2 separate regions of the Homo sapiens genome follow, and region 2 is linked to region 1. Evidence: fine-mapped expression QTL. A gene starts in region 1. The other region holds a variant in brackets. All regions are shown on one strand. Distances are from middle to middle. Region 1 holds the start of TMEM41B (transmembrane protein 41B). Region 2 overlaps TMEM41B (transmembrane protein 41B).

What was found. PIP is the estimated chance that this variant, and not a neighbour inherited with it, causes the effect.
Region 2: its variant is fine-mapped to the expression of TMEM41B in whole blood (TOPMed, PIP above 0.99).

Annotation. Positions count from the first base shown.
Region 1 is chr11:9,307,218-9,323,385 of GRCh38, forward strand. It overlaps TMEM41B (transmembrane protein 41B), which reads right to left and starts at 7,376. Exons shown (of 7, transcript NM_015012.4): 1 at 7,104-7,376. The coding sequence starts at 7,224. It also overlaps the pseudogene PRR13P2. RefSeq lists enhancers at 6,567-7,084, 7,085-7,600, 11,230-12,206, 12,207-13,183 and a silencer at 7,366-7,715.
Region 2 is chr11:9,281,768-9,297,935 of GRCh38, forward strand. TMEM41B (transmembrane protein 41B) reads right to left here. Exons shown (of 7, transcript NM_015012.4): 3 at 13,492-13,620; 4 at 6,675-6,768; 5 at 5,935-6,039; 6 at 4,688-4,826; 7 at 1-1,826. The coding sequence ends at 1,657. Among named protein-coding and RNA genes, the nearest start is that of TRL-CAA5-1, 15 kb to the left of the region's middle. The variant A/G (reference allele first, on the strand shown) is at 6,787.

The sequences.
Region 1 (16,168 bases):
CAGTGTTTTCTAGATATACTTGATCCCACCACGAACGAAGGAAAAAAAATCCATTTATCCTAAGGACATAAGCTTACAGGCCAACAAGTCTCTTAAGGTCACAAGAATCCACTGTAATATTGTCAGAAATAAACTTTATTTCAACGGTCTTAAACTATTAAAAAAATTAATTGAAAATGGTATTAACATCAAGTATAAATTTAAACAGCTGAAGTATCATAAAATAAAATCTTTTTTTTTTTTTGAGATCGAGTTTCTCTTGTTGCCCAAGCTGGAGTGCAATGGCTTGATCTTGGCTTACCACAACCTCCGTCTCCCAGGTTCAAGCAATTCTCCTGCCTTAGCCTCCCAAGTAGCTGGGATTACAGGCGTGGGCCACCACGTCCGGCTAATTTTGTATTTTTAGTAAAGATGGGGTTTCTCCATGTTGGTCAGGCTGGTCTCAGACTCCCGACCTCAGGTGATCTGCCTGCCTCAGCCTCCCAAAGTGCTAGGATTACAGGCATGAGCCACTGTGCCCAGCCAATAAAATCATTTTTTTAATTTTATTTCGAGTCTTGCTCTGTCACCCAGGCTGGAGTGCAGTGGCGCAATCTCGGCTCGCTGCAAGCTCCGCCTCCCAGGTTCACGCCATTCTCCTGCCTCAGCCTCCCAAGTAGCTGGGACTACAGGCACCACCCGCCACCTCTCCCGGCTAATTTTTTGTATTTTTAGTAGAGACGGGGTTTCACCGTGGTCTGGATCTCCTGACCTCGTGATCCGCCCACCTCGGCCTCCCAAAGTGCTGGGATTACAGGCGTGAGCCACCGCGCCCAGCCTTAAAATCATTTTTTAAAAACACAACAGAGGCGAGACACAGTGGCTCACACATGTAATCCCAGCACTTTGGGAGGCTGAGGTGGACACATCACTTGAAGTCAGGAGTTCCAGACCACACTGGCCAACATGGTAAAACCCTCTACTAAAAATACAAAAATTAGTTGGGCGTGGTGGTATGCGCCTGTAATCCCAGCTACTGGGGAGGCTGAGGCATGAGAATCACTTGAACCTGGGAGATGGGGGTTGCAGTGAGCTGAGATCACGCCACTGCACTCCAGCCTGGGCAACAGAGCAAGACACCGCACCTGGCCAACCTTGGACATTTTAAATCAATAAATCATTAAGATGGAGAACTTGCTAAATAAAATATTCCATTCCTTGCCTTTTTCTTCCATGAGCTTACTTCTTCCATTTTCTCCCTTCTGTTGGACTCTTCATTCTCTTCCTTCCATGCCAGCCTGGACTCCAAGAAGTATCATCTGAACTAGCACCTTTGACTGAAATCCTTATTCTTTCCTTATAGCCACCTAACCAAAAATCAGCACTACAAATTCACTTTCTTCCTTCCTACATCACAATGGTTTAGCACAAATACAGAAAAATCACTGAGTGATCCATCACAGAAATCCATGTCATTGGGAAAACTGATTTAGCTCTATTCCTACTCTTTCTTCTACATGTAGAATATGAATCAGGCTGAGCCAATCAGGTTACTCTGATGACCTACTGACAATAATGATAGGTTCAGGAAAAAGCATCTGATCTGAGGCAATCTAATCAGTGAATAGCAAGACTTCATCCGTAATACTAGGACAAAGATTCTCAAAATTAACATGGAAGCATTTAGCTTACCTGAAGCTTCAAGGGGAACCAAACTTAAGGTTAAGCTGACATCAAATAAGCAAATCAAGATATGAAAAATCTGATCCTGGCCGGGCGTGGGGCTAACACCTATAATCCCAGCACTTTGGGAGGCCAAGGCGGGTGAATTACTGGAGGTCAGGAGTTCAAGACCAGCCTGGCCAACACAGAGATAACCCGTCTCTACTAAAAATACAAAATTAGCTGGGCGTGGTGACGTGTGCCTGTAATCCCGGCTACTGGGGAGGCTGAGGCGGAGAATCGCTTGAATCTGGGAGGTGGAGGTTGTGGTGAGCCAAGATCGCACCATTGCACTCCAGCCTGGGCAAAAAGAGTGAAACTCCATTTCAAAAAAAAAGAAAGAAAGAAAAATCTGATCCTGAAGATGCTGAGCAACTGGCTCCAGCCTGATGCCACCAAATCCTACTCATTACTTGATTTACTTACATGGACCAATAAGCTCCCTTTCAGCAAGGGTTCCAGTGGGTTTTCTGTCGTAGACCAAAAAAATTCTGATACATAATACCTGGGTTGAGACTGACATCAGCAAACCATACTAATGCTTTGGTTGATATTCAGCTGCCAAGTCTAGTCTTAGATTTCATCTACAGTAATCAGAGCTTCCTTCTTTCTGTAAGCCAGTACTTTGCTCATAGTAGACACCTGAGGAGTATTTGTTAAACAAATAGCAAGGCAGGATCTAGACCAGGGATCTGGATTATCCAAGTCAGAACAATATTGTCAGCCAGGCGCAGTGGCTTACACCTGTAATCCCAGCACTTTGGGAGGCTGAGGCAGGCAGATCACAAGGTCAGGAGATCGAGACCATCCTGGCTAACATGGTGAAACCCCATCTCTACTAAAAATACAAAAAATTAGCCAGGCGTGGTGGTGGGTGCCTGTAGTCCCAGCTACTTGGGAGGCTGAGGCAGGAGAATGGCGTGAACCCGGGAAGGGGAGGTTGCAAGTGAGCCAAGATCGCACCACTGCACTCCAGCCTGGGTGACAGAGCAAGACTCCATCTCAAAAAAAAAAACAAAAGAACAAAAAAAAATATTGTTTTCTAGAAGCAATAAAATCAACTTTGAGACAGTGTTTTTCAATCTTTTTTGATTGTGTTCCAAGTAATGTATTATTATTATTATTATTTTTTTTTGAGATGGAGTCTCACTCTATCACCCAGACTGGAGTGCAGTGGCGCTATCTTGGCTCACTGCAAACTCCACCTCCTGGGTTCAAGTGATTCTCCTGCCTCAGCCTCCCAAGTAGCTGGGATTACAGGTGTGCACCACCATGCCCAGCTAATTTTTGTATTTTTAGTAGAGACAGGGCTTCTTCATGTTAGTCAGGCTGGTCTTGAACTCCTGACCTCATGTTCCGCCCGCCTCGGCCTCCCAAAGTGCTGGGATTACAGGCATGAGCCACCATGTCAGCCTAAGTAATGTACATGACCCGGTATACACAAAATCTATATAACTCAAGGAAAGATTAAACAAAAAAAAACCAGCATTTAATCCCAAAGCACTGATATTTTCTCTTCTATTCCATTTTTTTTAAAAAAATGCTTATTATTGATTATCCATCAAATTGATTTCACACCCCTCACAAGGGTCATGACTTATATATTGAAAAACATAGTCCAGCTCTCTTAAGTTAAAATGGAGAACTTGCTAGTAAATACATAGGTCGGGGCAAACACCACCAAAAAAGTTATGTACTCTAGTCCAGTCACCTTCAAACCGATTAGGTTAAGAGCCCTTTTTTTTTTTTTTTTTTTTTTTTAACCAGGAGAAATAACTTTATTTGGACTGAGAGCTGGAGAACAAGAATAGGACCTGAGATAGCATACTGGGCTAAGGAGGAGAGGTAAGGTTCCAAAATGGCAGTCAAAGCTCATCGACCAAACAGACTCTACTTCCCAGCAACCTTGCAGTTAGTGCAACCAACAAAAGGCCTGCTGGGGAATGTATTTTCCACTAAATTCCCCAAGTATGCCAACATTACAAAAAAGATAGAGGTTTTTCATCATAATTAAATTTCCACAATCCTCCCCAATCATGAGTATTATAAGCAGAAGTAAAAAATCACATTTTACAGATCTCAAACTTGTCTTCAACATTTAGTTCATCATCTTCAAAAAACAGCTCCCCTGCTAAACTCATTAGCTATATGATCTATCCAAGCAACAACAAGATGGCCAGGCCATGCCAATTCTCTTCCCATTTTCCCTAGCCACTCAGGGCTCAACAGCAGGGTGAAGCTCAGGCGGGGGTAGGGTGTGGGGAGCACAAGGGCTACTTTCCCCCAATACAACATGGCATCTGAAGCTTGATAGGAGAGCAGAACTGGTGAGACTTGAGGGAAGGACCCAGGGCCTGTATTCAGTCAGAATCACTGCTGGAAGAGGAGGAGGAATGCTTGCTATGCTTGTGCATCTTTTTATGAGCTTTCTTCATTTTCTTCTGTATCTTCTTGCCCACTATCACTGCTGGTCCAACCATGCCAGGAGCCAAGGGACTCACAGGAGGCATTCCAGGAGCAGACGGTGGGTATGGAGGAGGGTAGGGACCCGAGGATTGGCATCCTGGATACCCTGGCTGTGGCACAGGATGAGGGGGCCAACCTGGGGGGAAAGCTGAATTGCCTTGCGGAGCTCCTGGGGGAGGAGGACAGGGGCCTGGGGGAAAGGGTGGGTTGATAGGTGGTGAGTGGGCAGGATTGGAACCTCCAGGGCACCCAATGTTGGGTGGATATGGATTTGGCCCTGGCTGCCTGGCACTGGGATTCCACATGTTTAGGTGTGTCCTCCAGCCTTTCCACTGCTGCCTGGGCTTGATGCATTCTCAAGAGCTTCTTAACTAGTTTCACCTCCTGTCTGCTCTCTCATCTTCATCATGCAAAAATTAGACTTTCCGTGTTACCTCTGCCTTACTCAAGTAGTCAAAGTGGTCCACAGTCTACTAGGCTTAGCTCTGAGACTAGAGGCCAGAGTAATGGCAAGGAATCCACTAAATGTACCAAACATTGCAGATAGCATGTAAAACAGTTCAAACATACATATGATGATAACTACTTATTTGTCAAAGTTATATATGTGTCACTTAATAGAATACAAATTCATTTCCAAGTATCATGGAATTTACAGGAACATTCTGACACATCCTGAACAGGCCAACCTCATCGCCTACTACCACCCAACAGAAACCCTCTGCTCCTGACAAATTAATCTCCCTACCCACACACATAAAAGTTTCACACTAACCTTCAACCCTACTACTCTCTTTCTCCTAGCCTGGAATACCCTTCCCTTCTCTTTACTTATCCAAACCTTACTTATCTGGCAAAGCACAATGGCTCATGCCTGTAATTCCAGCATTTGGGGAGGCCAAGGCAGGAAGACGCTTGAGCCCAGGACTTCAAGACACCCTGGCCCCTTCTCTACAAAAAACAAATAATTAGCTGAGCATGGTGGCACACACCTGTAGTCAGCTATTTGAGGGGGCTGAGGTGGGAAGATCGCATGAGCCCAGGTAGCTGAGGCTGCAGCAAGCTATGATCATGCCACTGCACTCCAGCATAGGTGACACAGCGAGGCCTTGTCTCAAGTCACTAAAAACAGGCCTTACTTCATCATGAAGTGAAGGCACGCCTTCACATCTCTTCCCTGTCTTCCTATAGATTTGTGATCTATAGATGTCATGGGACAGCATCATAAGAATAATTGTAGGCCAGGCGTGGTGGCTCACGCCTGTAATCCCAGCACTTTGGGAGGCCGAGGCGGGCGGATCAACAGGTCAGGAGATCGAGACCATCCTGGCTAACAAGGTGAAACCCCATCTCTACTAAAAATACAAAAATTAGCCCGGCGTGGTGGTGGGCGCCTGTAGTCCCAGCTACTCGGGAGGCTGAGGCAGGAGAATGGCGTGAACCCAGGAGGCGGAGCTTGCAGTGAGCCAAGATTGCGCCACTGCACTCCAGCCTGGGTGACAGACCGAGACTCCGTCTCAAAAAAAAAAAAAAAAAAAAGAATAATTGTGTTGAATGTTTTGTTGTAATGATAAAATAAGATTAAAAAGTAAGAGCACTTTGGAAGTTTCAAGGTTTTATTTTTTGAATAGCTTTAGGTAAAAATCATGAATACAACTGGCTGCTACCTCAAATGAGATGTCAATTTTTAGGGATGCCCTATCTGGAACACTTTTTCAGGAAACCCAGACCTTGGAATATTGTCACCCTCAGTAGTAGAGTCTTCAAAACAATCTTTCTTTTATTCAGAGCTGATTTATACATTAACAACGATTCATTTCTCAGTTTTTGAAATTATATGAAGTCACCTGGATCCAGTGTATATAAGCTGGAAAAATACCCAAAAACATAAGGCTGACAGAGCCAAATTAGACTGTTGGAGACATTTTAAATTATTTGAAAATACATTAACATTTTCTACTACATACTCTTAGAAGTTCTCCTAGCCATCACTGGTGGTGGAACACACCTATGTGAGCTACAGACAAACTTGTTAGGATCACTTTAAGTTTATGAGCTTTAAAATCATTTAAAGAACGATTCCAGGCCAACACGGAATCAAAGTATTTAGTTTCTACGTACAGTTTTTTCCTTAAAACAATATTTAAAGCCGTGAGATTCTGCAATTATAGAGGCAGTAGGAATAAAGAGAAAACAAAAACCAAAAATAAAGCCGTGAGAAATGTCAGGATGATGTAGTGGGGAAATAAACTTTAGAATGAGTGACCTTAGCTGTAACTAAGTAATTGCTAATATTTATTTAGCCCCCACTTCATATCCAAGCATTGCTCTAAATCTTTTACGTGAATTATTTCGTTTAACCCACGCACCACCTATTAAGTAGATATTATTATTATCCCCATTTCACAGTTCAGACACTGAGCTTTTTTTGAAAGTTACCAAGTCCAAGGTTCCAAGTAAACAGTAGGGCAGGGACTCAAGCCCAGGTGTACTGCCACCTGGAAGTATTAAGTCCTCGCTCCTAACTACTACTTCACTGATCTGGCTTTATGACTTTATAAGTCATATACCCACACTGGGCCTCAGTTTCTTCATCTGTAAAAACAACGCAGCGAATGCCACAGTACAGCTCCTTCCAGCTCTGCCTAGCGTCGTTATCATCAACCTTACAATCTACCTGAGCGTCAACAAGCCAGTGTCATCCCTTCTTTTAAATGAATTCTACTCAAACAGCATTTACAACGCACCTACTCGGCGTCCGGCCTTGTGCTGCGCGAGCGCCCAAGCCCAACTCCCCCACGGTCTCTGCTCCCGCCGCGGCGCCAGCAGGCCCCCCTCTTTCCCCGCGACTCTCCGAGAATAGCGGGGGTCCTTTTCCCCACCCGACACACAGAAGCCTCGGGCCACCCCCAGCTCTGCTCCCCGGGCCCACTCACCCTTCTGGTGGTCTCTGCTGCCAGGCGCCGCGAGACCCCGCGTCCCCGCTGCCCCGTCCCCCACGGGGGTCGTGTGGTGAGCGCCCAACTGCGATCGTTCGGCGACTCTGCCTTTCGCCATGGCTGCTGCAAGGTGAAGGGAGCGGTGCGGTGCCGCGCCCCCTAAACAACAAAACTCTGTTGCAGGCTCCTTACTACGCCGAAGCGCCACGGCTAGAGCCACTTCCGGCGCGACCTCCTCACCCGAGACGACCTCAGCCCAGCGAGTACTGCAACCTCCTGCAAACACCCGCAGCGCCCACCACAGGCTAAACCCCGCCCCGTGCCGCCCCCGAGCCTCGCGTGCTCGCGCCGGCCCAGTAACCGCGAGACAAGTCAGGGTCCTGGACCGCCCCCTTCAGTGCCCCGCCCCGGCCCGCCCGCGGGAAAGAGGTGGCCGCCGGGCGCTGGGGCGAGAGCATGCGCAGTCGCGGCACTCGAGTCACCCGGCTGCGACTCGCTGGCCCTGGCGTCTAAAGCGTAGCCTTAATTACCCGGAAGTGCGGTCCCAGGGACTTCAAACCTTTTGTCCAGGCCGCCGGAGGTGCCTGTGATTAGTCGGCATTTCGCGGCTGAGGCTGATTCAGCCCATTACATCAATTCCGCAGCTGCTGTCTTCAATTTGGAGGCGCCAGAGAGTGCTTGATCTAAAAGATGGTGGGAAATACAAAGGTTGAGCAAAACCTACCTGAATTTCAGGAAACTAAGGCTCAGAGAGGGCTACGTACAACCTGTGAAGATCACAGGATGGCAAAAATGGGCTTAGAATCCAGGTTGTCCTGTTCCCAAAGCTAACGGTTTTGCATTAGCTGCTGCCCCTTACTACTAAACCCAAGTCAGCTCTACATTTAGCTTATCCCTAAGCTAAGCGGAAACATGCCTTTTCCACAGGTAACTTTTTCTGCTTCTACCCCTCAGAGCACATTCAGCTTACTCACCGTGGTTACCTCTTGAAAGCAACTTAGAGGCCGGTCGCGGTGGCTCAAGCCTGTAATCCCAACACTTTGGGAGGCCAAGGCGGGCGGATCATTTGAGACCAGGAGTGTGAGGCCAGACTGGCCAAAATGGTGAGATGAGACCCCGTCTCTGCTAAAAATACAAAAATGAGCTGGACATGATGGCTTGTAATCCCAGCTACTCGAGAGTGTGAGTCAGGAGAATCGCTTGAACCCCGGAGGCTGAGGTTGCGGTGAGAAATTGCACCGCTGCACTCCAGCATAGACCACAAAGCAAGACTCCGTCCCAAAAAAAAAAAAAAAAAATCCTGATTGTTTCTATTCAGTAATTACATTTGTAGGAAATTATTCCATGAAAATAAACATAAATAATTCCTCTGTATTAGTATAACAGTGAAAAACTAAAAGCAATATAAAAATCCAACACTAAATAAAAATGGTTAAGTAAATTATGGGAAACCCATTCAATTGAACTGTTTTATGTACACATCCTTTGCCTACTTCTGGCTCCCATTTTATTTCCTTCATAGTCATTAAAAGCAATTAATTCTGTGAACTATTTGTTTACTTGTTTATTGTCTGCCTCCACCTTTAGAATATAAGCTTTAAGGCAGGGGCTTTGTCTTTTTGTTTTTTGTTTTTTTAAGTGATGGGAATCTCACTATATTGTCCAGGCTGGATCTGAACTTCTGGACTCAAGGGATCCTCAAGCATCAGCCCTCTGAGTAGCTGGGACTACAGGCTCCATGCTATGGCTCCCAGCTGGGCTTTGTCTTTTTGATCACCATTGTATCCCCGGTAGCTGACAGAGTGCCAATACCTAAGTGGCCATTCAATGAATTTGTTGAATAATTTTTTTTTTTGAGATGGTGCCCAGCCGAATAAATTTTCAATCTTAGGAAATTATATTTATGGGCCAGGTGCCATGGCTTACACCTGTAATTTCAGCACTTTGGGAGACCAAGGTGGGCGGATCACCTTGAGGTCGGGAGTTCAAGTCAAAAAAAAAAAAAAGAAAACATTTTATATATTTTACTATGCAAACATTAAAAATTGAAGTACAACAAAAACTAAAAACAAACACTGAGAAGTATTTGACACATAAGAATTACTACAAATCAGTAAGGAAAGCACAACTCAACAGAAAAATGGGCAAAGAATATGAATTATCAACACACAGAAGAAAAAATTAAATGTGCTTAAGACATCTGAGTGCGCAGTGGGAAAGCCAACTCCAAAACTTAGGAAATTCCAAAAAATTAGGAAAAGATGAACAACCTCAGTGCAGTGTGATAAGAGTGACTGAGGGGTGCGCAGATTGCAATAGCAGAAGAGAGGAATATCTAAATTACAGTGGGGCTGTAAAGTCTCCCAGGAAGCAGGATTAAAACTGATTTTTAGAGGATGAATAGGAATTAACAAAGTTGAAAGCAGAGAAAATAGCTTTTGCAAAGGCTAGAAGCTACTGCTTATATTAGAAAAAAAGCTTCAAGCAAAGGGTGGGAGAATGGAAAGAAATGCTACGAAAGATATGAGACCAGGACCTTATCACAAACTGCTAAAAGTTTGAACTTAATCCTCAAAGATATTTAACCAGAGAGGGACTTAGTAAGATTTGTATTTTTGGCCGGGCACATTGGCTCACCCCTGTAATCCCAGCACTTTGGGAGGCTGAGATGGTTGGATCACCTGAGGTCAGGAGTTCAAGACCAGTTTGAAAACCCGTCTCTACTAAAAGTACAAAAAATTAGCTGGGTGTGGCCGGGTGTGGTGGCTCACGCCTGTAATCCCAGCACTTTGGGAGGCCGAGGTGGGCGGATCACGAGGTGGGGAGATCAAGACCATCCTGGCTAATATGGTGAAACCCCGTCTCTACTAAAAATACAAAGAATTATCCGGGCGTGGTGGCAGGCGCCTGTAATCCCAGCTACTCAGGAGGCTGAGGCAGGAGAATGGTGTGAACCCAGGAGGCAGAGCTTGCACTGAGCCGAGATCGCGACACTGCACTCCAGCCTGGGTGACAGAGCAGGACTCCATCTCAAAAAAAAAAAAAAAAAAAAAAAAAAAAAAAAAAAAGCTGGGCGTGGCAGCGGGCGCCTGTAATCCCAGCTACCCGGGAGGCTGAGGTAGGAGAATCGCTTGAACCAGGGAGGTAGAGGTTCCAGTGAGCTGGGATCGTGCCATTGCACTCCAGCCAGGGCAACAAGTGTGAAACTCCGTCTCAAAAAAAAGATTTGAATTTTCAAAGCTTATTCTGACCGCCTTATGGAAGTGTGCCAAATCAACAGCAGAAAGAGAAGTTAGGAGATTACTGCAATAATCCTGGCCTGACCTAGCATAGTGTACTGGAGACAAAAAGAAGATACCAGATATAAGATTATGTATGAGAAGAACTATCTCTAAACTTTTATTACTTTAATTACATGAATATATACATAGTCATTCCAGACAAAATTTTTTTTTTTTTTGAGATGGAGTTTCACTCTTATTGCCACGCTGGAGTGCAATGGCATGATCTTGGCTCGCGGAAACCTCCGCCTCCCAGTTCAAGCGATTTTCCTGCCTCAGCCTCCCAAGTAGCTGGGATTACAGACATGTGCTACCACGCCCGGCTAATTTTGTATTTTTAGTAGAGGGGGGTTTCTCCATGTTGATCAGGCTGGTCTCGAACTCCCGACCTCAGGTGATCTGCCCACCTCGGCCTCCCAGTGCTGGGATTACAGCCGTGAGCCACCACGCCCCAGCCTCCAGACAAATATTGAAAAAGCAAATTATCAGACAGAAAAACATTAAGTCCAGGCAGGGTGGGTCATGCCTGTGATCCCAGCACTTTCGGAGGCTGAGGAGGGCGGATTGATTGGGCTCAGGGGTTTGAGACCAGCCTAAGCAACATGGTGAAACCCTGTCTCTACAAACAATACAAAAAAGCCGGGCATGGTGGCAGGTGCCTGCAATCCCACCTACTCAGGAGGCTGAGGTGGGAGAATGGCTTGAGCCCAGGAGGTGGAGGTTGCAGTGGGCCAAGATCATGCCATCGCACTGTAGCCTGGGTGACAGAGCCAGACCCTGCCTCGAAAAAACAAAAACATTAAAATCATGTCTAATATGTTAGCAGCAGCAAATCCGTACGGGTCTGTAGCAACCTCAATTCTTGCTTCCTCAGAAGAATTCGACCGAAGGGCATAAGGCAGAGTGAGAAACCAAGGCAAGTCTTAGAGGAGTGAAAGTTTATTAAAAAGCTTTAGAGAAGGAATAAAAAGAAGCAAAGTACACTTGGAAGAGGACCAACAGGTGACTTAAGAGATCAAGTGCACGGTTTGACCTTTACTTGGGGTCTTATACATTGGCCCAGGGTTATTTCTCCCCTGATTCTTCCCTTGGGATGGGCTGTCCACATGTGCAGTGGCCTGCCAGCACTTGGGAGGGGTTACATGCACAATGTCTTTACTGAAGTTGCACATGAAGGGGTGGGTTGCCCCTCCACACCTGTGGGCATTTCTCATTAGGTGGAACGAGAGACTTGGAAAAGAAAGAGACACAGAGACCAAGTATAGAGAAAGAAAAAGGGGCCCAGGGGACTGGCGTTCAGCATGTGGAGGATCCACGCCGGCACCAGCCTCTGAGTTCCCTTAGTATTTATTGATCATTATCGGGTGTGGCAGGATAATAGGATAATAGTGGAGAGAAGGTCAGAAGGTAAACACGTGAACAAATGTCTCTGCATCATAAACAAGCTAAAGAAAAAAGTGCTGTGCTTTTGATGTGCATATACATAAACATTTCAATGCCTTAAGGAGCAGTATTGCTGCCAGCATGTCCCGACTCCAGCCCTAAGGTGGTTTTCCCCTATCTCAGTAGATGGAATATACAATCGGCTTTACACCGAGACATTCCATTGCCCAGGGACCAGCAGGAGACAGAAGCCTTCCTCTTATCTCAACTGCAAAGAGGCGTTCCTTCCTCTTTTACTAATCCTCCTCAGCACAGACCCTTTACGGGTGTCGGGCTGGGGGACGATCAGGTCTTTCCCTTCCCATGAGGCCGTATTTCAGACTATCACATGGGGAGAAACCTTGGACAATATCTGGTTTTCCTAGGCAGAGGTATTGTGTCTCTGGGTACTTGAGATTAGGGAGTGGTGATGACTCTTAACAAGCATGCTGCCTTCAAGCATTTGTTTAACAAAGCACACCCTGCACAGCCCTTGATCCACTAAACCCTGAGTTGACACAGCACATGTCTTAGGGAGCACAGGGTTGGGGGTAGGGTTACAGATTAACAGCATCTCAAGGCAGAAGAATTTTTCTTAGTACAGAACAAAATGGAGTCTCTTATGTCTACTTCTTTCTACGCAGACACAGTAACAATCTGATCTCTCTTTTCCCCATAGCACACATGCTCACATGAGGCAGTTTTTCCTTTACCAGTCCAGTGTTCCTAGAGGAAGGTCATACACAACTTAAATTCTGCCATTTTGCTTCTTAGTGTGCATACTTGAGCCGGAGATGTTACCGAGAAGCTGCCAATCATCAGTTTCAGGGTTTTTTCTATTTGTTGGGAGACTGCCTTTCCCTGGTGCCAGCTGCGACCAATTATTGTTTTAGGAAGGCAGTTTAATGGCCACCTGACCAACAACTGATGGTCACCTGACATTCCTGGTGAAGTGGAGAGGCCCTCTCCTGCCCTCTCATGTCTGATTAGCTACCTTCTGTAACAATACCACCATCCATAGATAATTGTAATATTGGGATTTATCCTCCTGGGATATTAAAAAATGTTAAAGAAGTAGAATCTAGAGGATTTAGTGTCACTTAATATCCTTAGACAAAGATGTTAGTCAGAGGGGAGGCACTAGGTGTTTGGAGAGTTTCTGGTTTAGGAGGTTGAATGTGATACCAGTGGGACCACAACCCCAGCCAGTGTGTAGGCTCTAGATATTGCAGGAAGGAATTCAAGGATGAGTCAGAAAATAGTGAAAGTACGGAGACTTATTGCAAGGTGAAAAGTACACACTGAAGAAAGGGGAGCGCAGGTGTACTCAAAGAGTAGTCGCCCAATAGAGTTTGGGATTTCTACCTTTCTGGGTTTCTTTAACCAAAGGGTGGGATATTCATGAAGATTCCTGGAAAAATTCCTGGATTTTTCAGAAATGTGGTGCCACCCATTTTTATACCAAATTTGTTCCTGGAACCGTCAGGGGGTTGGTGGGTGTGTGATTATGTTTTATTGTTTTTGTTGTGGGTTTTTTTTTTTCTTGACAGAGTCTTGCTTTGTTGCCCAGGCTGGAGTACAGTGGTGCGATCTCAGCTCACTGCACCCTCTGCCTCCCGGGCTCAAGCGATTCTCCTGCCTCAACCTCCCAAGTAGCTGGGACAATAGGTGAATGCCACCACACCTGGCTAATTTTTGTGTTTTTAGTAGAGATGAGGTTTCACCATGTTGGCCAGGTTGGTCTCGAACTCCTGACCTCAAGTGATCTGCCCGCCTCGGCCTCCCAAAATTCTGGGATTACAGGCGTGAGCCACCACGCCCAGCCCAGCCAACATTTTCTATTCTTCTGCCACCAGCCTGTATTATTCCTGTCTCACTAGGAATAACGGCGGTAAGAGACCACAGGAAGAGGAGTTGGATTAAAGGAAAAGTTGTTAAATTTTGTTGTGATGGTCTTGAACTCCTGGACTCAGCAATTTTTCCGCCTCAGCCTCCCAAGTAGCTGGGATTACAGGGATGAGCCAATACCACACCTGGCCTCTCGGATACTTTCTATTCTTACTTCCTGACTCCTGCCACCTTTTCTCAGCTAAAACTTCTCTTATTATGGTAACCAATGAGCTTATTTTTGTTGCCTTCAGTTAGTTTCTAGTTATTTCTCCTCTGCATTGCTTAATCCATTAACTGTTCCATCCTTCATGGTTTCCATGATAGTTCTCTAAACACTTGAAGGAAACTCTTCTTTTCCCTACTGCTTAAAGGCCAATATTTCCCCCAGGGTATCCACTCTGCCATGCGATAAGAGTCAATGACTCTCATTGCAAGGCTTAGTGGCTCACGCCTGTAATCCCAGCACTTTGGGAGGCCGAGGCGGGTGGATTGCTTGAGGTCAGGAGTTCAAGACCAGCCTGGCCAACATGGTGAAGCCCTGTCTCTACTAAAAATAAAAAATTAGCTGGGTGTAGTGGTGCACGACTGTAATCCCAGCTACTCGGGAGGCTGAAGCAGGAGAATCGCTTGAACCTGGGAGGCAGAGATTGTGGTGAGCCCAGATCGCACCATTGCACTCCAGCCTGGGAAATAAGAGCTAAACTCCATCCAAAAAAAAAAAGAAAAAAGAAAAAGAAAAGAAAAAAAAGAGCCTATGACTCTTTCTTTCTTTTTTTTTTTTTTTTTTTGAGACAGAGTCTCACTCTGTCGCCGAGGCTGGAGTGCAGTGGGGCGATCTCAGCTCACTTGAACTTCCGGGTTCAAGCGATTCTCCCACCTCAGCCTCCCAGAGTAGCTGGGACTACAGGCGTGCGCCACCATGTCCACTGCTTTTGGTTATTTTATTATTATTATTTTTGAGGCAGAGTCTCGTTCTGTGGCCCAGGCTGGAGTATGTTGGCACCATCTTGGCTCACTGCAACCACTGCTTCCCGGTTTCAAGCAGTTCTCCCGTCTCAGCCTCCCAAGTAGCTGGGACTACAGACCCGTGCCACCACGCCTGGCTAATTTCTGTATTTTTAGTAGCGATGGGGTTTCACTATGTTGGCCAGGCTGGTCTCGAACTCCTGACCTCATGATCCGCCCGCCTCAGCCTCCCAAAGCGCTGGGATTACAGGCGTGAGCCACCACGCCCGGCCTCACCTATGACTCTTTCTAGGCAACATCTAGGTCATGACTTCAACAACCGCGTATTATACACAGATGACAAATGTTTATCTTAAATGCCAGAATGATATACATAGAACTTAATACACATTTACGCCAGGGTGTACCACGAACATCTCAAATTCAGCATATCCAAATCTGAAATGAATATATTACCTCTCAAACTTTATCCACTCCCTGTATTCACAGACGTTGCAGATGACACCACGAGCTCCCCTTTTGCTCAGGCAAATCTAAGAATTCTCATTTAACATTTGTTAAATTCAACTTGTGAAATGAATGAATGAATTCCTTCTTGTCCTTTGAGAAAAGAAAAACTTTTATCTGAGAAATGCAAGTCCTTTAAACTGTCAGGCCCAGAAAGACATTCAAATGAGACCCCAATCATGTCCTACTCCTCCCTTACAAGCTATGTATTCTTCTCCTGAAACTGCCTGCAATTGCCACAAGTAGCTATAAAGTAACCTAAAAATGATGCACTGGACACAAATAATCCGCACACTGTAGTTTAACAATGTATAGCCAATCACTAATCAATGTTATGTGTGTAAACCAATGAGAATTCCTGACAAACAATTTTGCATCAGACTGCTCCCTGTCCCCCTCTTTTACCTTAAACAAAACCCTACTTGTAACAAAGCCTGGATGGAGCTCATCTCCAAGGTTACTTGTGTCTGAGTCTTCTGGGCAGCTGTCCTCACTTGGGCTCAAGTAAACTCTTTATATTTTGTGCCTCAGCCTCTTCCTTTTAGGTCGACATATTCACACCCCCATCCATTCAAATGCCAGGTCCAGGCAGGTCTCCAACTCCTTACTCTTTATTTGTTTGTTTGTTTGTTTATTTACAGAGTCTCACTCTGTCCCCCAGGCTGGAGTGCAGTGGCATGATCTCGGCTCACTGCAACCTCTACCTCCCGGGTTCAAGCAATTCTCCTGCCTGCCTCAGCCTCCCAAGTAGCTGGGATTACAGGCGCCCGCCACCACGCCCGGCTAATTTTTTGTATTTTTAGTAGAGACGGGGTTTCACCAGTTGGCCAGGCTGATCTCAAACTCCTGACCTCAGGTGATCCACCCGCCTCAGCCTCCCAAAGTGCTGGAATTACAGGTGTGAGCCACAGTGCCCAGCCTCCTTACTCTTTCTTTATTTAGATATCATGATTTCTCTTCTTATTCACCTCTAATCAGTTTTCCATATTGTTGCTA
Region 2 (16,168 bases), 25 kb before region 1:
GGAAACTGCAATAAGTAATCAAAAGTAGCTCCAAACAACAAAGCCATCAATAGAAACAAAAGGCATTTTTCTAGGTGTATCATGCATAAAAAGAATAATTACATAATATTATTAAATATATTCCTTAATGACCAGATTAATAAATGAGGTAAAATTTAGTCATTGGAACAAATAAACTATATTTAATCACTTGTGTTTTGCTGTCACTGTTTAAAATAATTAACTTAATGTCTAAAAACTACATACTCTTGAATGTTTGCTTTTTAGAGCCCCTTGTGGGATATTAAAGAGCCATAACAAATTATCTGAATATAAATTATCAATACCAGGCTGGGCACAGTGGCTCATGCCTGTAATCCCAGCACTTTGGGAGGTGGAAGTGGGCATATAGCCTGAGGTCAGGAGTTCAAGACCAGCCCGGCCAACATGGTGAAACCCCGTCTCTACTAAAAACACAAAAATTAGCTGGGCACGGTGGCACACACCTGTAATCCCAGCTACTCAGGAGGCTGGGCCAGGAGAATCGCTTGAACCCAGGAGGCGGAGTTTGCAGTGAGCCGAGATCACACCACGCACTCCACTCCAGCCTGGGCAACAGCAAGACTCCGTCTCAAAAAAAAAAAAAATTATCAATACCAAATATGATACAGTTATGTAATACCCATTTTGCATATGCACAGTGGAAATACTGTAAAAACTACAAGATGAAAGAAAACCGACTGGCCAGAACTTTAAATTTCAGACTAATCCATGATAAAAATCTAGATGATAAAAAACAAAAATAAAATTAACAAAATAGATAACTTGATATCCTTTCCATATTCAGTCGTCTACTAACATGCCATCTCCAAACAAATCCATTACCTCAAAAGAGGAAGAAAATGGGCCAGGCGCGGTGGCTCACGCCTGTAATCCCAGCACTTTGGGAGGCCAAGGCGGGCAGATCACGAGGTCAGGAGATCGAGACCATCCTGGCTAACACGGTGAAACCCCGTCTCTACTAAAAATACAAAAAAATTAGCTGGGCATGGTGGCGGGCGCCTGTAGTCCCAGCTACTCAGGAGGCTGAGACAGGAGAATGGCGTGAACCCAGGAGGTGGAGCTTGCAGTGAGTGGAGATCGCGCCACTGCACTCCAGCCTGGGCGGCAGAGCTAGACTCCGTCTCAAAACAGAAAAAAAAAAAAAAAAAAAAAGAGGAAGAAAATGTAAATCTCTTTTTAAGTTTTCCAGTTTATGCTCTGAAAAAAGCCTAACATTAACAAAACCTGCAACACTACTTTAAAAAATCTAGAATTTAAAAATATCTATTTTAGTTATTAAAGATAAAAAATATTCAATTAAATTGAATGAATTAGCTGGATCAACAATTTCCTACCACACTACTATTATCTACAGCTACCCTTGGTATAATAATTTATAAGATGTCTAAGATGTCTACCTTAACTATTGATAGCACTTTTCACAGTATACCAATTTCCATTTTTACTTTCTTCTCCCCTTGTCACTTAAATGTATTACTTTAACTATCTGATAGGAAATTTTATTTTACAAATTCCTTGTTTAATTACTGAAGAGGTGATTTTAAAACATAAATGGATGCACCTGTTAATCCTGAGATGGTGATGACAGCAAAACTAAAAATCAGATGATTATTTTTACTCAAATTTCTGCTTTAGTTTTTTTTGGAAGATGGCTGGCAGAATAGAAAGAACAGCCAAGATCATCAGAATAAATATTGAGTTCCAGGAAACAGCTTCTCCTGCTGTTGTAAGTTGATACAGTGTTGTTCCTGCCTTAATGGCTACAAAAGAAGGAGGTGCGACACCTGAAATAAAATATAAAAAGATACAGTAAAAACCACCGCAATTGTTTTTAAAAAATTAAAATGTTCTGTGTGCATAAAGTTTCTTAAAACAACACAGCTATTTCCATTTTGGAAAAAAAATTAAGAATTTAAAGCTCAAGTTTATTTCCATATAAAGAATTCAATCTTTCCTAATCACCTCTTAAGGATAATGATTTTTTTTTTTTTTGAGACGGAGTTTCGCTCTTGTTGCCCCCGCTGGAACACGATGGCGCGATCTTGGCTCACTGCAACCTCCGCCTCCCGGGTTCAAACAATTCTCCTGCCTCAGCCTCCCGAGTAGCTGGGATTACAGGCATGTGCCACCACACCCGGCTAATTTTGTATTTTCAGTAGAGATGGGGTTTCTCCATGTTGGTCAGAATGGTCTCAAACTCCCGACCTCAGATGATCCGCCCACCTCAGCCTCCCAAAGTGCTGGGATTACAGGCATGAGCCCCTGCACCTGGCCAGAATAATGAATTTTAAAAACGCAAGAAAAGGGCCCAGAAAATAGTTTTACATTTATCAAAAATGCTTTTGTTTTCTCCCCCCGAGAGTTTGACTCTATCGCACAGGCTTGAGTGCAGTGGTGCAATCATCACTCATTGCAGCCTCAGTCTCTCGAGGCTCAGGTGATTGTCCCACCTCAGCTTTCTGAGCAGCTGGGACTACAGGCGTGTACCACCACACCCAGGCAAAATTTTTGAATTTTTTGTCAAGAGAGGGGGTTTTGCCATATTGCCCAGGCTGGTCTCTGTAACTCCCAGGCTCAGGCAATTCACACGCCTCAGCCTCCCAAAGTGCTGGGATTACAAGTGTGAGCCACCACACCCAGACTATCAAAAACCTTAAAAGAAAAAAAAACAGGCCCGGCACAGTGGCTCATACGTGTAATCCCAGCACCCTGGGAGGCCAAGGCAGGCAGATCACCTGAGGTCAGGAGTTTGAGACCAGCCTGGCCAACATGATGAAGCTCCATCTCTACTAAAAATACAAAAATTAGCTGGGTGTGTTGGCGCACACCTGTAATCCCAGCTACTTGGGAGGCTGAGGCAAAAGAATCACTTGAACCCAGGAGGCGGAGGTTGCAATGAGCTGAGATCACGCCACTGCACTCCAGCCTGGGCGACAGAGAGAGAATCTGTCTCAAAAAGAGAAAAAAAAAGAAAGAAACGTGCTCTGTTCTAGCAATTTCAAGGTCAAGATACTCAAAGTGTGAGTAAAGAGAGCAGTGTATACAAAAGTACATAGAGAATGATGACATTTCACTAAAAATCAAAACAAAGGGAAATAAATTACTTTGGCCAAAGCTGAAATTAACTAAATCTCTGGCTTTCACCTATAAAATGGAGATAGAAACAAAAATTCTCTCTTTAGATTCCATGGATATGACATTTAACAAAATTAAAAATTCCCCATGCTGATGTAAGTTTGTCCATTTTTTTTTCTTTTCTTTTCATTCTTTCCTTCTTTCTTTTTTTTTTTTTTTTGAGACAGTGTCTTGCTGTCGCCCAGGCCGGAGTGCAGTGGCACAATCTCGGTTCACTGCAACCTCTGCCTCCTGGGTTCAAGTGATTCTCCTGCCTCAGCCTCCTGAGTAGCTGAGACTACAGGCACCTGCCACCACATTCAGCTAATTTTTGAATTTTTAGTAGAGACAGGGTTTTACCATATTGGCCAGGCTGGTCTCGAACTCTTGACCTTGTGATCCACCCGCCTTGGCCTACCAAAGTGCTGGGATTATAGGCGTGAACCACCGCGCCCGGCTAATTTTTTTTTAAAGTAGCAATAAATAATTGATTTTGGTTATTCTTTTCAAAAAGACATATTCTCACAAGTATTAACTTAAGCTTTAATAGGTATTCAATATGTAAGAAATCTGCTCGTATTTTTGACTTCTAAACAATTCAACTCGAACTGGAAAGAAGAGCAAAACATTCCTACAAAGAATCATGAGAATTCACAAAATATGTAAGTAATTTTCATGTCCACTGATTAATTTCAAAATCAAGTATTATTTCCTTAAAAGCAAGAAAGTTTGTTGATCCTTGCTTTTTCCATACTTTTGATAACATCCGCGATAAAAGCTGGTTTCAGTAAAAGGAAAAATAGGATCAATTCTCTACTGAAAATTCAAGTTCAACATTTTAATACTTGATTAGAAAACAAAGGAGCTATTTTGCCAAAGCAACATTTACAAAAAAAAAAAAAAAAAGAAAGGGCTGGGTGCGGTGGCTCACGCCTATAATCCCAGCACTTTGGGAGGCTGAGGTAGGTGGACCATGAGGACAGGAATTCGAGACCAGCCTGGCCAACATGGTGAAACCCCATTTCTACTAATAATACAAAAATTAGCCAGACGTGGTGGCGTGTGCCTGCAGTACCAGCTCCTTGGGAGGCTGAGGCAGGAGAATCGCTTGAACCCGGGAGGCGGAGATTGCAGTGAGCCGAGATCATGCCACTGTACTCCAGCCTGGGCGACAGATCGAGACTCAGGGAAGAGGAAGGGGAAGGGACATAGGAGAAAATTGCTCAAAAAAGGCAATTTGATTTTTTTTCCTCTCCACTTAGAGGGACTGGAAGTCCTGCTTAACCCTATATCATTAAAACGATATACAGTAGAAAGTGTTCTTCTTTAAAGAGGCGACACAAAAATAACCTAAATCAACACAATTCAACAAACACTTCTGAGCATCTATTTATACAGCCAGGCTTTGTGCCCAAGAATTCTAGATGGTGCTGGCATAATCTGCAGAGAGCATGCATGTAATCTAGCCCAGCTGGACACTGTTAGATATGTACACAGTGAGCTCATACACAGCAAGAACCAGAGGGCTTACCTAGAAAAGTACCAATAAAAAAAACTTTCAATGGCACGTTTATCACAGGAGATGTGATATTAATAAACCAATTAGGCAGAAATGGTGTTATTCTCAAAAATATAATGTAGTTAATGAGATGTTCTCTATGACGTTCAACCTGTCATAAGAAAGAAAAGAATTAGCATCAGATGAGGACAACTTCAAAATAAGTTGCTTAATATAAACACCTTATTTCAAATTCTCATTCCTGATACTTCAGAGTATACCCAATAGAAATGATCAGGCTGGCGAGGTGGTTCATGCCTGTAATCCCAGCACTTTGGGAGGCTGAGGCAGGCGGATCACCTGAGGTCAGGAGTTCGAGAACAGCCTGGCTAACATGGTGAAACCCGTTTCTACTAAAAATACAAAAAATTAGCCGGGCATGGTGGCATGTGCCTGAAATCCTAGCTACTTGGGAGGCTGAGGCAGGAGAATCGCTTGAACCCGGGAGGCAGAGGTTGCAATGAGCCAAGATCACGCCACTGCACTTCAGCTTGGGCAACAAGAGCGAAACTCTGACTCAAAAAAGAAAAGAAATCATCAAAAAAGGCCAGTGGTGACTCATGCCTATAATCCCAGCACTTTGGGAGGTTGAGGCAGGTGGGTCACCTGAGGTCTGGAGTTCGAGACCAGCCTGGCCAACATGGTAAAACCCTGTCTCTACTAAAAATACAAAAAATTAGCCAGGCGTGGTGGCATGTACCTATAATCCCAGCTACTTGGGAGGCTGAGGCAGGCAGGAGAAATGCTTGAACCGAGGAGGCAGAGGTTGCAGTGAGCCGAGGTCATGCCACTGCACTCCAGCCTGGGTGACAGAGTAAGACTCCGTCTCAAAAAAAGAAAAGAAAAAAATGCACTGGGAGTTGGCTGATACAAGTGTTTCCATAACAGATGCACACAATACTGCATTAACATAAAACAGATAGGTATCTAATTATGTGGATGCCTTTATATTCACACTGACTTCTCTGCTGATTAAATTTACTAAGATAAAGAATTAAAATTACCATCACAGGTCTGAAACATTTGTATTTGAAATTATTAACATTCATATTTGCCTACCACCCATTTTTATTTGGTCAGAAGATAATTCTTATTACTTGAGTTAACTTAGGAATTAATTTATGTTGGGTTAATACATGTAGTTAATTCATGTAGGGACTAAACACAGACCTTCCAATTAACAAAGAGTTACATCAAATAATTTAAAAATACATGTTTACCTGCTGTGACCATTTTACTGCTTTCTCTGTTAGGTATTTGTATACAACTGGTCTCCCAACTAAATAGGAAAGCATATAACAGAAAGAGGCACCAAGTCCAGAACACTGGAAAACAAAAGAAGCCATAAGCGTTTTGTATTTTTCCGTCTTACTCACATTGATTTATTCACCTGAGTAAAAAGCTCAATTAATTTACTTCTTTCAGAGGTGGGGAGGGTACTCTGCATGACATCTCTTGTGCAGAGATGATCTAGTACTTTCTCAGACCAAAATGTACCTCAAATGAGATCAGCTAAAACAAACTGGCACTTGTGATTACACCTAGTGACTATATCCAAATAATTAATGCTAGGCTTTAGCCTAAGAATAAAATTTCAGGAGCCAATTTCCACCTCCCCCCGACCCTACCCCCGACCCCCCCAGTTCCTAAGCTTGAAAACACCACCTCTGGCTCTGGGACTTAACTCATTGTGCTCACCAACACTCCTTGGACTGTCGCAGTTACAAAATCCAATAGGAAAGAAAAGCTAAAACATAGCTTATAAATGCAACTAAGTCTATAATTGGTCTGTTCTGGGGGAAAAACAAATTATAACACCTCCTTGTGGAGGGACTTTAACATTAACTCCTCTTCAATTAATGAGTTTATGCTTACATAGACTAGTAGGGTTAAAGTATCATCATCATCCTCATCATTCTATTGTTTTTTCAGTCTCCCAATTTTATTTTTTCATACTTACCAAACAAACAAGAAATAAGGCTAGTGGAAAGGGATAAAGAAACCCTGAGAGTATACTGAGAAATATAGAGCCTGGAATAGCAAATGTTTGCAAGCTGGTAACTTTTAAGTTA[A/G]GGATTAGAATATAATTAAGTAGAATTTTAAAAGACAAATGTAACATTTCAGGAAAAAAGTATAAATACAAAAATTATCATACAATGAGATTATATCCAAAGGTCTAGCCTCTAAGTTGACCATTTACTAAACAGTATCATAAATACTAGTAAGTGTGTGCTACTAAAAGGTTTCCAAGACAAAAAACCGTATGTTCTAGATAGAGAGGAACCGGGCACTTTGGGGGAGGAACAAAAGAAAAAAGAAAAGGTCTTCCGTAATCTTTTAGTGCTTCTCTAATACATTTTATTTTACTCCCAAATGTTTTCAGGGAAATCATGTACATACAATTATTTCTAATTTAACTATGAAGGTTTACCTAAATTCACTACTCATTTTAAAGGAATAGGAACTACAAGAGAATAAAAGAAAATAAGAAAAATAAGAATAGAAATTACAAAATATAGTAAAAGTCACAAATCTTATTTGAGAAGGGGTCTTGCTTTGTCACCCAGGCTGGAACGCAGTGGCGCACTCATGGCTCACTGCAGCCTCAAATGCCCAAGCTCAAGCAATTCTCCCACTTCAGCCTTGCAAGTAGTTGGGATCACGGACGTGTGTCACCACACCAATTTTTATTATTTGTAGAGATGAGGTCTGGCTGAGTTGCCCAGGCTAGTCTTGAACTCCTGGGCTCAAACGATCCTCCCACAATGGACTCCCAAAGTGTTGAGGTTACAGATATGAGCGACTACACCCGGGCCACAAATCTTGTTTTTAAAATAGATTTTTTTTTTTTTTTACTTTCCTGTCGTTCCCAGTTTGGATCTGAACCTTTTTCCCCTCTAATATGATTTACTCACAAGTCAAAGTGAATTCCCTCAACATCTCTCCATCTATCCTCACTCATTAACTATTCCTTTTTCTCTAGTTCCCATTTTACTCATGTTCTCATTTCAATCTCCTCCTCCTTCCTCCTGGGTTTTTTCACCTTCAACTCTGTTCTCTTTCACAGGATGCCTCCTCTACAAAACTACTCAGTTGTCTATAACTTAAAAAACAACCTCAACCAGGGTATCCTATCCAGCTACCGCTCATCTTCACTTCCTCAGAGGAGATTCTCTCCTCGTTCCCTGTGACCTGCTTTACTATTCCACTATGCTATTGAAACTTCCTCACAGCCAATAATAACTTTTTCTCAATAGTCACCTTTCAGTGATCCCTGCATAGGATTAGACTTCATCCTGCATGAAACATGGCTTCAGTGAACTGTACTTTTTCTTCTACATTACAGGTAATTTCTTCTCTAGATTTTTCTCTTTGCCCTCAACTCTTGAAATTTCTCTAACATTCTGTTGGCCACACAATCCCTTTTCTTTGATAAATTTGGCAATTTCCATGGCTTCAAGTATCAACCACATATAGTACTAAAAACTCGAAATTCTCTTTGGTTCATCAGCCTCAAATTTTCCACCTGTCTCCTACATGTCTCTGTCAAAAACAAAACACACACACACACACACACACAAACACACACACTTTTTGGGTTAAGATTGTACTATATGGACCGGGTGGGGTGGCTCATGCCTGTAATCCCAGCACTTAGGGAGTCTGAGGCAGGCGGATCACAAAGTCAGGAGATCGAGACCATCCTGGCCAACATGGTGAAACCGTCTCTACTAAAATACAAAAAACTAGCCGGGCGTGGTGGTGGGCACCTGTAGTCCCAGCTACTCGGGAAGCCAAGGCAGGGGAATCGCTTGAACCCAGGAAGCAGGAGATTGCAGTGAGCCGAGATCTCGCCACTGCAAGCCAGCCTGGCAACAGAGCAAGACTCCATCTCAAAAACAAAACAAAACAAAACATCATATTATGGATAGTTTCACACATATGTAAATGTAGAAATACTCAATGTAAATGACAAGTTGATGGGTACAGCAAACCAACGTGGCACACATATACGTATGTAACAAACCTGCACGCTGTGCACATGTACCCCAGAACTTAAAGTATAATAATAAAAAAAAAAAAGAAAGAAAAGAAAGCAAGACTCCAAAGGATGAAAGGAGATAAATGGAAATTTTCCCTTGAGGAAATTGAGAGAAGCAGAAATAAATGAGGACAAGTTCCCAGGAAGTGTTTTGTTGTTTTTGTTGTTTAACGCAACTGTATTTTTTCCTTTCCCAAAATTTGGTGCAATTCCTACTTCTCTGAAAAGGAAACCTAAAATTACAGCTGAAATTGGGGAAAAAAAAACAAAGTAGAGAAACTAGTGTTATGATGCCCTATATTAACATATTTCAGGCTGGGCACCGTGGCTCCCGCCTGTAATCCCAATACTTTAGGCAGCTGAGGGTGGATCACTTGAGACTAGGAGTTGAAGAACAGCCTGGCCAACACGATGAAACCCTGTCTTTAATAAAAATACAAAAATTGGCCAGTCACAGTGGCTCATGCCTGTAATGCCAGGTACTCAGGAGGCTGGGAAACGAGAATCTCTTGAACCCAGAGGGCAGACGTTGTAGTGAGCCGAGATCATGCCACTGACCTCTGGCCTGGGAAATAGAGTGAGACTCTGTCTCAAAAAAAATAAAAATAAAAATAAGGCTGGGCGCGGTGGCTCATACCTGTAAATCCCAACACTTTGGGAGGCCAAGGCAGGTGGATCATGAGGTCAGGAGTTCAAAGAATACAAAAAATTAGCCGGGCGCAGTGGCAGGTGCCTGTAATCTCAGCTACTTGGCAAGCTGAAGCAGGAGAATTGCTTGAACTCGGGCAGCGGAGGTTGCAGTGGGCCGAGATCGCGTCGCTACACTCCAGCCTGGGAAACAGAGTGAGACTCCCATCTCAAAAAAATTATAATAATAATAAAAATAAATTTTTTTTTGAGACTGAGTCTCGCTCTGTCGCCAGGCTGGAGTGCAGTGGCATGATCTTGGCTCACTGCAACCCCTGCCTCCCAGGTTCAAGCGATTCTCCTGCCTCAGCCTCCCGAGTAGCTTGGATTACAAGCGTGTGCCATCGCGCCCAGCTAATTTTTTTTATTTTTAGTACAGACAGGTTTCACCATGTTGGCCAGGATAGTCTCCATCTCCCGATCTCGTGATCCACCCCGCTTGGCCTCCCAAAGTGCTGGGATTACAGGTGTGGCCACCACGCCCGGCCAATTCCTTTTTTTTTCCTTTCGTTTTTGTGGTAGGAGTCTCGCTCTGTCGTCCAGGCTGGAGGGCAGTGGCGTGATCTCAGCTCACTGCATTCTCCGCATCCCAGGTTCAAGCAATTCTCTGCCTCAGCCTCCCAAGTAGTTGGAATCACAGACGCCTGCCACCATAACTGGCTAATTTTTGTATTTTTAGTAGAGACAGGGTTTCACCATCTTGGTCAGGTTGGTCTTGAACTCCAGACCTCGTGATCCACCTGCCTCGGCCTCCCAAAGTACTGGAATTATAGGTGTTAGCCACCGTGCCTGGCCTCCTTTTCTTTTTAACATAAATATGATACCATTGTCAGACTTCAAGAAATTAACTATAATTCCTTATTGTCCTAAAGACTAGTCTGATCAGAATCTAGAAGTCCACACAAAGTATTTGCTCAAAGGATCACTTAAGCATAGGGTCTTTATTTTTTCTTTCTTTCAATTTACTGAAGAAACCAGATCATTTGTAGAATTTACCATTTATTGAATTTTGCCTATTGGATACTTAGGGTAGTTTATGTTCTATCCTTTATCTTATACTAGTAGTCAAAACTATGCTTCCTTTTAAATGGGAATGTGACTTGAGCTTAACTTTGTTTAGATTTCTCTTCTCTTACACTGAAAAATCTTGGTTCTTGATAACACCAACATAGTTGCCTATTTGTGCTTTATATACTATGAAACATAAAGTAAATGTATAAAATATATACTATGCATTAGTATTAATAATCTAAAACGTTTCCACATATTTAAATATTTTACAACATTATTACTACTAACAATATGATGACTAAAAACAGTTTTAAGATTTTTGGCTAGGCCTGGTGACTCACACCTGTAATCCCAGCACCTTGGGAGGCTGAGGTGGGAGGATCACTTGAGCCCAAGAGTTCCAGTTCGAGACCAGCCTGGGCAACATGATGAAATCCCATCGCTACAAAAAAATACATGAAGAGACGGGATTTCTTCATGTTGGTCAGGCTGGTCTTGAACTCCCAAACTCAGGTGATCAGCCTGCCTCGGTCTCCCAAAGTGCTGGGATTATAGGTGTGAGCCACCACACCCGGCCCTGATAATACTATTCTTAATTTTTGAGGAACTGCCATACTATTTTCCATAGTAGCTGCATCATTTTGCATTCCCACCAACAGTGCTCAAGAGTTCCAATTTCTCCACATCCTTGCCAACACTTGTTATTTTCATGATAGCCATCCTAATGAGTGTGAGGTTGCTTTTGATTCTTAAGATTCCTGCTATTCTCTTTTTTCATTTTGATTTTGTAATTATGTAAAACATTTACTTGGTTCTCAAGTCAAACCTACGCTAAGAAAAGTTTCAGTCCTACCATTTTATCTCTCTCCCTACAGGTAAACATTTTTACTGGTTTATTTATTTGAGATACAGTCTCACTGTCACCTAGGCTGGAGTGCAGAGGCTAAATGCTTCGCTGTAGCCTCAACTTCCCTGGGCTCAGGTGATCTTCCCACCTCAGCCTCCCAAGTAGCTAGGACTACAGGCATGTACCAAGACATCCAGCTAATTTTTGTATTTCTCGTAGAAACTGGGTCTAGCTACATTGCCCAAGCCAGTCTCGAACCACTGGCCTCACGCAATCCTCCTGCTGAAGCCTCCCAAAGTGCTGGGATTACAGGAATGAGCCACTACACCCGGCCAATTAGTTTTTTAAGAAAAATATAACAAGATACTTATGTATATGAGTGTACTCATATTATCCCCTTCTTAGATAAAACACAGCATATTTGTGTACTATTTTGCCCTTTGTTCTTTCACTTATCTGTATATTGTGAGTTAATACCTCAACAACATATGGATACTTCTGATTCTTTTTATTTTTGTTATTTTTATTTTTTGGGGATGGAATCTTGCTGTCACCAAGGCTGGAGTGCAGTGGCACGATCTCAGCTCACTGCAACCTCCACCTCCTGGGTTCAGGTGATCCTCCTGCCTCAGCCTCCTGAGTAGTTGGGATTACAGGCATGCAATCACCACGCCCAGCTAATTTTTGTATTTTTAGTAAAGATGGCGTTTCACTATGTTGGCCAGGCTGGTCTGAACCCCTGACCTCACGTGATTCACCCGCCTCGGGCTCCCAAAGTGCTGGTGTTGCAGGCATGAGCCACCATACCTGGCTACTTCTGATTCTTTTTAAATAGCTATATAATATCCCAGTGTTGTCAGGCGTGGCGGCTCATGACTGAAATCCCAGCACTTTGGGAGGCTGAGGAGCTCAGGAGTTCAACACCAGCCCAGACAACATAGCAAAACCTGGCATCTACAAATAAATCCCAAATTTAACTGGGTGTGCCTGTGGTTCCAGCTACTCGGGAGGCTGAGGTGGGAGGATCACTTGAGCCCAGGAGGCTGAGGCTGCAGTGAGCCATGATCATGCCACTGCACTCCAGCCTGGGTGACAGGGGGAGAACCTGTCTCAAAAAAAAAAAAAAAAAAAAAAAAAAAAAAAAAGCCGGGCACAGTGGCTCTCACCTGTAATCCCAGCACTTTGGGAGGCTGAGATGGGCAGATCACCTGAGGTCAGGGGTTCCAGACGACCCTGGCCAACATGGTGAAACTCCGTCTCTACTGAAAATACAAAAATTAACCAAGTATGGCGGCAGGCGCCTGCAATCCCAGCTACTTGGGAGGCTGAGACTGGAGAATCGCTTGAACCTAGGAGGTGGAGGTTGCAGTGACCAGAGATTGTGCCTCCAGCCTGTGTAACAAGAGCAAAACTCCATCTCAAAAAAAAAAAAAAAAAGTTGGTTTAAAAAGGATGATTACTTTTACAACATCAAGAAGTAAATTACGTCTTTCATTAACTGAGAAGATCTGGAAAACAGTTTGGATAAGAATAAAAGATATTAACAAATCAGAAATGAAAATTAAACTCCACAATATGCAAAATTAAGCACCCACAGCTAAGCAGTTTGAAATAAAGCTATTTTCCTGACTAGTTAAAATGTAATATATTTCTATAAAATATATATCAAAAATTGTAAAAAACATTCATTCCTTTGAATAAGTATCTTAAGAATTTTTACAAAAGAAACAATGCAAGAAAAAAACATGAACAAAGGAGATTCATAATACATATCTATAAAAATTAACAACAAATTATACCTCCAAACCTAACAGAACAATTATAAAAATACTATGGTGACTACTAATTCAAAATAATTATATAAACTAGTATCATCAGTTAATGAATACAATTATAAATCAAACCCATAAAATAAACATCTTAATAATATGCAATAAAGGAAAATGTTTGGTAAGTGAAAAAAGCAGAATACAAAAGAACTTCTAATAAATATTCAGACATAAAAACAATTAGTTCAGCAAATAGGATTAAAGTGATAATTTTTTTCCATTTTAATTTTTCAATTATTTAATATTGTCACACTGCAATAACAAATTTTAAAAGGAAAATAGTTATGTATAAATGAAGAGCAGACCTTTTACACTTTTTCTTGAACAAAATTAGAAAACATTTTTTCAGTTAAAAGGATACAAAATATATGTAGCAAAATAAGCTACAAGTACTTGAACATAAAAGGTGTCCTTGTATTTGGATAAAACTTTTCCTAGAGCCTTGGCATCATCCATATCTCTGGGAACCTTCATATTCACTCTTTCTTCTCTGAAGAAATAAAGTGAAAAATTTTAGAACAGAATTTTGCCAAGATAATATCAAAGTCAAGTTCACAACATGAAGTTTTATCCAAAATGATTTCATGCCTTGATCTATTAAGTCTAAATTAGCAATGTTTAAGTTTAAAAGTTTATAATTTTTCTTTTGTTTTGAGACATAGAGTCTTGCTCTGTTGCCCAGGCTGCAGTGCAGTGGTGGAATCTCAGCTCACGGCAATCTCTGCCTCCCAGGTACAAACGATTCTCCTGCCTCAGCCTTCTGAGAAGCTGGGATCACAGGCGTGCACCACCATGCCCAGCTAACTTTTGTATTTTTAGTAGAGAGGGAGTTTCACCATGTTGCCAGGCTGGTCTCAAACTCCTGTGCTCAAATGATCCTCCTGCCTCGGCCTCCCAAAGTGCTGGGATTACAGGAGTGAGCAACCGCACCTGGCCTATAAATTATTATTAATTTCATTTTATTTTTATTATTTTTTTTGACACAGTCTCACTCTGTTGCCCAGGCTGGAGTGCATTGGCGCGATCTCGGCTCAGTGCAACCTCCACCTCCTGGATTCAGGTGAGTTTCCTGCCTCAGTCTCCCAAGTAGCTGGGATTACAGGCACGTCCCACCATGCCTGACTAATTTTTGTATTTTTAGTAGAGACGGGGTTTCACCATGTTGGCCAGGCTGGTCTCAAATTCCTGACCTTAGGTGATCCACCCGCCTTGGCCTCCCAACGTGCTGGGATTACAGGAGTAAGCCACCATGCCCGGCTATAAATTATTTTTTAATGCTTTAATATAATTTCATGAGACAGGCAATTTTTTCTTTTTAATGTCTCAGCAGAATCAGAGACAGGTAATTTATATATGAAGGCTCTGGATGACGCAAACCAAGGGTTAAAGGCATTTGTTCCAACATCGAAACAAATTTTAACTTGAATATAAGAAATGAACCACTGGCCAGGCACATGGTGGCTCACGCCTGTAACCCCAGCACTTTGGGAAGCCGAGGCGGGTGGATCGCCTGACATGAGGAGTTCGAGACCAGCCTGGCAAACGTGTTGAAACCCCGTCTCTACTAAAAATACAAAAATTAGCTGGGCATGGTGGTGCATGCCTGTAATCCCAGCTACTCAGGAGGCTGGGGCAGGACAATCACTTGAACCCGGGAGGCAGAGGCTGCAGTGAGCCTCCAGCCTGGGCAACAGAGACTCCGTCTCAAAAAAAAAAAAAAAAAAAAGAAAGAAAGAAAAAAAGAACCACTGATGTTAGTAAATTAAAAACATTTAACATCATTTTGGGTAATCCTGATGATAAACTAAATAATAATTTACAATGAAAATTAAGTAAAAATGTAACAAATTCACAGTTCAAACATTTTCTTGAATACCACAGATCAAAGTCCACAAAAAACTGCAAGTTTTCCAGTACTTTTACTCTATATTTGGCACTTTGTTTGGAACTGAATGATTTCTTGCTTAGGAAAGCCTCGAATAATCACCTTTGTGTTTCATGCATATTATGATCATTTCTTTTTTTTTGTTTGTTCTATAGGCAGGCTCCCATGCTCTGTCACCCAGGCTGGATGGAGTGCAATGGCACGATCATAGCTCAATATTACCTCCATCTCCTAGGTTCAAGTGATCCTCCCACCTCAGACTACTGAGTAGCTGGGACTGCAGGCACGTGCCACTATGCTCTGCTAGTTGTTGTTTTTTTTAGATAGAGTCCTGCTCTGTCGCCCAGGTTGGAGTGCAGTGGCGTGATCTCGGCCCACTGCAAGCTCCGCCTCCCAGGTTCACGCCATTCTCCTGCCTCGGCCTCCCAAGTAGCTGGGACTACGGGCGCCCGCCACCACGCCCAGCTAATTTTTTTATTTTTAGTAGAGATGGGGTTTCTCCACGTTAGCCAGTCTGGTCTCAAACTCCTGACCTCACGTGATCCGCCCACCTTGGCCTCCCAAAGTACTGGGGTTACAGGCATGAGCCACCGCGCCAGGCCGCTCTGCTAATTTCAAAATTTTTTATAGGCTGGGCGCAGTGGCCTAGGCCTGTAATCCCAGCACTTTGGCAGGCCGAGATGGGTGGATCACGAGGTCAGGAGTTCAAGATCAGCCTGGGCAGCACAGTGAAACCCCATCTCTACTAAAAATACAAAAATTAGCTGGGCATGGTGGCATACATCTACAGTCCCAACTACTTGGGAGCCTGAGGCAGGAGAATCGCTTGAACTGGGAGGTGGGGGCTGCAGTAAGCCAAGATTGCACCACGGCACTCCAGCCTGGGCGACAGAGTGAGACTCTGTCTCAAAAAAATAAATAAATAAAGTTTTTTATACAGATGGGGTCTCGCTATGTGACCCAGGCTGTTCTCAAACTCCTGGATTCAAGTGATCCTCCCAAAGTGCTAGGACTAAAGGCCTGAGTCCTCATTTGTTTACATGACAAAAAAAATTTAACTGACCTATGGCTGGGAACAGTGGCTCACACCTGTAATCCCAGCACCCACCCTGTCTCTACAAAAAATTAAAGAACTAGCAGAGCATAGTGGTGC